Regions from separate parts of the Homo sapiens genome. Here region 1 is linked to region 2. A link means that fine-mapping ties the variant in region 2 to the expression of a gene that starts in the linked region. Tissue or cell type: whole blood. Region 2 holds a variant in brackets; the other region holds the start of a gene. All regions are shown on one strand. Distances are between the middles of the regions. Region 1 holds the start of FOXI1 (forkhead box I1). Region 2 has its middle 34 kb from the start of FOXI1.

Region 1 (2,904 bases), 34 kb after region 2:
CTCAGCCTGAGGGTGATGGCAGTCCTTGGACAGGACACTTGCCCTCTTCTGGGGACAAACAGGCCTGGTGTTTGCCACCCTCAAATGGGGCAGAGTTGGGGTTCCTTTGAGCTATACCTTGGCTTCCTGCGGTGGAACAAAAGTGGACTTTAATTCTGGGAAATGGATGCATGAGTATTTAATACATGCCTCTCTGCAGGTCTCTGAGTTTTAGAAATGCATCGTTGAAAAGGAAAAGCTCACAATTTCTGATGTTAGAGAAAACTGAGTTCAAATTCAAGCTCCATCACTATCACTTCATTCTGTGTCACCTCTGAGTGTTATTTTCCTAATCTGTAGAATGGGTTTCATAAGAGCTACCCTGCAGGGGTGTCTTCGGGTTAAAGGAGGTTACCTAAGTAGAAACAAGGCAGGCAGCAAAATGGGCCATTAGTGGCTGTTTAACCCAGGTCAGATCCTCTTCCTGGCAGTCTTGGGATGCCCTTGGGCTTTGGTTGGTCCAGTCATTCATTCACCAAAGACTTTCTATGTGCTGGGTGCTGGAGATGCAGATGAATCGTAATTACTGCAGGCGATTAAGCGCTTGATAACACCTAAAACCTTGTGTACATTATCTCATCACCTCCACTGCAGCCTGCAAAGCAGATGCTGTCACTATCCCTGGTTTTCCGATGAGGGAACTGAGGCTCTGAGGTCTAACCTGCCAGAGGTCACTGACTGGGCAGGAGCACAGCCAGGGCTGAAACCCAAATCTTCCCCCAGGCCCATGCTCTCCTTCACTGCTGAGCTCCCCTCTGTCCTGCCTGGTAGCATCCCCCAGTCTTGGGGGGCACAGCCCTAGTCAGAACTTTCTAGAATGGGGTCTTGGGGAGGAAGGAAGTGAGTCTTCCTTGGGGACACCCCCCACACTCAAAGCCTCCTTACCCGGGTCGTCCTCGTCGCGGGGCACCTTCTTGAAGCAGTCGTTGAGCGACAGGTTGTGGCGGATGGAGTTCTGCCAGCCGGCCTTGCTCTTGTTGTAGAAGGGGAAGTTGTCGGCCACGTACTGGTAGATCTGGCTGAGAGTGAGGCGCTTGTCGGGTGCCCCGTGGATGGCCATGGCGATGAGAGCCGAGTAGGAATAGGGTGGCCGCACCAGCTTCATCAGCTCCTCCTGCGAGGGGATGGGCAGCCAGCCCAGGTCGCTCCCCCCAAGCCCCGACACGCTGGGCAGCAGCGGCCTCTGCACTCCATAGGCCTGGGGCAGGAAGGGGCTGGCGTTGGGGCCGGGCAGGTAGGGTGGCGGGGTCATGGTGGGCCCGTTGAACCAGAGGTAGGGGTTGGGGGTGGCCCCATACTCGCCGCCCCCCTCGAAGGAGGGCCGCTGAGGGCTGGGCACGCCCTGTGGGTGGAAGAAGTTCTCATAGTAGAGGTTCATCTCGGGGGGCTCCTGGCCGATGCTGGGGAACTGGGGGCTGCAGCGAGGTGGGGAGGGCGCCGGCAGGTCGAAGGAGCTCATGCTGGGGCTGGGCTGGCCGGAGCCACCTGCCTGGCACCTGCACCCCGGAGCTGCCCCTGACAGGTGCTCAGCAGGCCCGGCCTCCCACTTATACCCCTAGGGCTTGGCCGGGCGGCCCCACCCAGGGGCGGCCACCTGCCTGTGGATCCCAGCCCAGGGCCCGCCCTCCCTCAGCCTCCAGCCCACGGGGAGGGGACTTTCCCGCTGGCGCCTCAGGTCCCCACTAATGACATGCTAGACGGCTTACCAGAGCTGACACGCAGCGCAGCGAGAACGCCCCTCTATCCTCTCTCCCGGCTTTCTCTCCTGTCTTTTCTCACCATCCTCATGATTCCCTTCTTCTTTTTCTCCTTTATTCTGTCTTACTTCTCTCATTTTTTTTTCTGTCCTTCCCTTTCGTCACATTTTTCTACCCACCTCGGTTTCCTTCTCTCTCTCCCTCCTCTCCTCTCTGCATCTCATTCTCTGTTTCTTTCCTTCTTATTTTCTTTCCTCCCTTCTGCTCTGAACTGTGTTTCTTTTCTATGAACTGATCTGGCCACATCACAGCTGCTCATTCCCGTTCTCTCTCTCTCTCTCTCTCTCTCCCCCTCCCTCTCTCCCTCTCTCCCTCTGTCTCTAGGCTTCCAGTTCTTCTTTCCACTTCCATCTCTCGCTTCCATTCTCATTGTCTTCCCGGCTTCTCCCCTTTCTCCTTCTCTTTCACTCTGTCCCTTTCTCTCCACCTCTCATTTTCTCTGCGCCTCTCTTCCCATCCCCTCATTCTCCCTCCTCTTCCCCCCAATGTCCCCTCATTCTCTAACCAACTGCCCCAGCCGGGACTGGGTGGGACACTTTATCAGAAACCCTGTTTCTTGGTCTTTTGAGGTGAGGAGGCACTTTCTGGAGTTGCCAGGAGAGAACCGGCCCTGGAGACTCAGAAGAGGGCGCAGAGGGGCCTGGGCTGGCTTCTGGTGGGGTTCAAGGGGGCAACCAGTCATAGGCACCGCAGCCTCCCCCAACACACACATACACGCACACACGCGTACGCGCACACGCACACACGCGCACACGCACACGCGCACGCCCACACACGCGCACACGCCCACGCACGCACGCGCACACACGCACGCACACACACACGCATATGCATACATGCTGCAGACGGGCAGAGAACCTGAGAATTTGCCTGGAGAGCAGCAAGGCTCTTAAAAATAATAGCAAAAGGGGAAAATGGGGAATCAGTCTTCAGGGAAAAGTGAGAGAACTTGAACAATTCAAGTTTCTTTCCAGCTGCAGGGCAAGCAGGCTCCCAGCTCCTCTCTGATCCAAAGACCTTTCATGTTTCAGCTCGCAGAGGCCCCTGGCATGGAGGCAGCCAGGGCACGAGGAGAGCGCCCGACTCACCATGCCCCAGGCGTCCTCTC
Region 2 (2,904 bases):
CATGCGCCAGTCTGTGGAGAGCGAAATCCATGGGCTCTGCAAAGTCACTGATGACACAAATGTCACTCGGCTGCAGCTGGAGACAGAGATCGAAGCTCTCAAGGAGGAGCTGCTCTTCATGAAGAAAAACCACAAAGAGGAAGTAAAAGGCCTACAAGCCCAGATTGCCAGCTCTGGGTTGACCATGGAGGTAGATGCCCCCAAATCTCAGAACCTCACCAAGATCATGGCAGACATCCGGGCCCAATACAAGGAGCTGGCTCGGAAGAACCAAGAGGAGCTGGACAAGTACTAGTCTCAGTAGATTGAGGAGAGCACCACAGTGGTCACCACACAGTCCGCCGAGGTTGAAGCTGCTGAGGTGACACTCAATGGAGCCGAGACATACAATCCAGTCTTTAGAGATCGACCTGAACTCTTTGAGAGATCTGAAAGCCAGCTTGGAGAACAGCCTGAGTGGAGGCCCACTACATCCTTCAGATGTAGCTCAACGGGATCCTGCTTCACCTGGAGTCAGAGCTGGCATAGACCTGGGCAGAGGGGCAGCTCCAGGCCCAGGAGTGCCAGGCCCTGCTGAACATCAAAGTCAAGCAGGAGGCTGAGATCACCACCTAACGCTGCCTGCTGGAAGACGGTGAGGAATTCAGTCTTGGTGATGCCCTGAACAGCAGCAACTCCATGCAAACCACCCAAAAGACCACCACCCACCATATAGTGGACGGCAAAGTGGTGTCTGAGACCAATGACTCCAAAGTTCTGAGACATTAAGCCAGGAGAAGCAGGGTCCACTCTGGGGAGCAGGAGGCCAATAAAAAGTTCAGAGAGCAAAAATAAATAAATAAATAAAAGGCCTGCATTTCATGGGCCATCATCTTTTTGTGTGTGTGCATCAACTAATTTGAGAACTGTGCTGAGAAAGATTCTGTGGTTGCAGTGGGCTGGAGGTGGCCCCCAGGACATATGTCCATGCCCTAACCCTGGAAGCCTGTGAATGGGACCTTATTTTAGTTTAAGAATTGGAAAATGTGAACACTCGCATTTGCAGATCTAACTAAGTTAAAGATCTTGGGATGTGCTTATCTGGGTTACCCAGGTGGACCCTAAAATCAATGACAAAC[G/A]TCCTTTTAGGAAACAGAAGAGGAGAAGACACGGACACAGAGAAGGGGAGAAGGCCACGTGATGACAGGAACAGAGATGGGAGTTATCAGCCATGAGCCAGAATGCTGTGAGCCACCAGAAGCTGGAAGAGGCCAGGAACAACTCCCCGTGGAGCCTCAGGAGGGAGCTTGGCTCTGTTGACACATTGGCCTTCAGAACTATGACAGAATAAACTTCTGTGTTTCAAGCCACCCAGTTTATGACAGTTTGTTAAGGCAGATCTAAGAAACTAATCCAGTGGCCTCTCAGCTCGATGGGAAGAAGCGCCCTGGTAGATCCTATGCCTGAGTGGGCAAGGGAGGCCACATGACAGGGCACGTGCTAAGGATCGAATGTGTTTGACTTGGATTGACCAGGTCTTCAGGCTGGGGCTTCCTCTGTGTAAACAGACACCAGATCACTCCATCACCGAGTGATTCAGCATAAAATGGTGCATAGATGGAGCAGGATAGAGTTCCTTTGTGGGAGTGGGAGGAGGGGTGTGGGGAGCAGTGGCAACACCAGTAGCTTTGTCATCATTGGCTGAATAATAATGAAGGGGGACAACATTTGGGGAACTTGGGGAAAGTAAAGATGGTGGCTGGTCATCTTTTTCATCCCCCTGCCTGCTGCCTGTAGGTAGGACCACAGTGAATTGTGACTCATCCAGGAAGATGATGGGGAAGTCGTCCTGGCTAGGGCTTCTGCTTCTGTTGGAGTCGCCCATTCCAAGGTTTAACGACCCTTCCCATCAGGGCTTTCCTATCACATTTGAGCCATTCACTGCCCCATTTGAACCTTAGTTTTCCTGCCCAATCTACAACCAAATATCAACCAAATCCCATCCATCATGTAACAAGAGGGAGCCCAGGGTGGAGACAAGCAGCCCAGGACGCTGGCTCACATCCTTTCTTGCTGTGTGATTTTGGAGAACTTCCTATCACTGGTCCTTAGTTTTCTCATGCGCAAGATGAGAAGAAATTAACAATGCCTGCTCCAAGAAGTTGCTTTGAGGATTCAACTAGATCACAGGTATAAACAAGACCAGTGCACACATTTAATAACTGTGCAAAATGTTCAATTTAAAAGCAAAATTTTGAGACAAACAAACAAAAAAAGCAAGCAAAATTAGCTGTCCCATTGAATTCCAGACCCTTTAGCCTTTCCTCATGGGTTTTCTTTAGTAATCACCATTTATTGAGCACTGACTGTGAGCCAGATACCTTCCATGTCATCTCATTCAGTCCTCGCAACAGCCCAGTGAAGTCAGTACTATTGTTATGCCCACTTAGCAGGTGAGGAAACTGAGGAGAGTGACTTGCCCAAGGCAAAGTATTAAATGGAAGGTCCACCTCTTAGCTATCATATAACTGAATCTCTGCACAGAATACTTCTCTCCTAGTGTTCCTTTGCTGTCTTGGTTTGGAAAGTGGACCCCATTGAATCCCCTTAGACCACAGACTCTTCGAGAAAAGGGAACACAATCCTTGGGGTGTTCTTACACCCAAAGCACTGGTGTGAGAGTCTCGTGCAGGATAAGTATCACTGTGCAGAAAACATGAATAAGTGAGTCAATAAATTAATAAATAATGGAGAGTTTTTAAGGACAACTTTATACTAAGATGAGGGATATTGACATTATCGTCTACCTTCCTGTGTGACACTGTGTCTGACAGCTCTTTCCTTTGTAAAATGGGGATAATAATATGCCCTCTGCCCTGTCATGGGCCCTGGGTCAAGGGACTGTTCAGCTTGAACACAGCCAGA

What was found. PIP is the estimated chance that this variant, and not a neighbour inherited with it, causes the effect. A credible set is the group of variants that fine-mapping cannot tell apart.
Region 1: it holds the start of FOXI1, and the variant in region 2 is the best candidate, but not a certain one, in a credible set for the expression of FOXI1 in whole blood (TOPMed, PIP 0.79).

What each region holds. Positions count from the first base shown.
Region 1 is chr5:170,104,552-170,107,455 of GRCh38, reverse strand. It overlaps FOXI1 (forkhead box I1), which reads right to left and starts at 1,559. Exons shown (of 2, transcript NM_012188.5): 1 at 925-1,559. The coding sequence starts at 1,498.
Region 2 is chr5:170,138,523-170,141,426 of GRCh38, reverse strand. It overlaps the pseudogene KRT18P41. Among named protein-coding and RNA genes, the nearest start is that of FOXI1, 34 kb to the right of the region's middle. The variant G/A (reference allele first, on the strand shown) is at 1,119.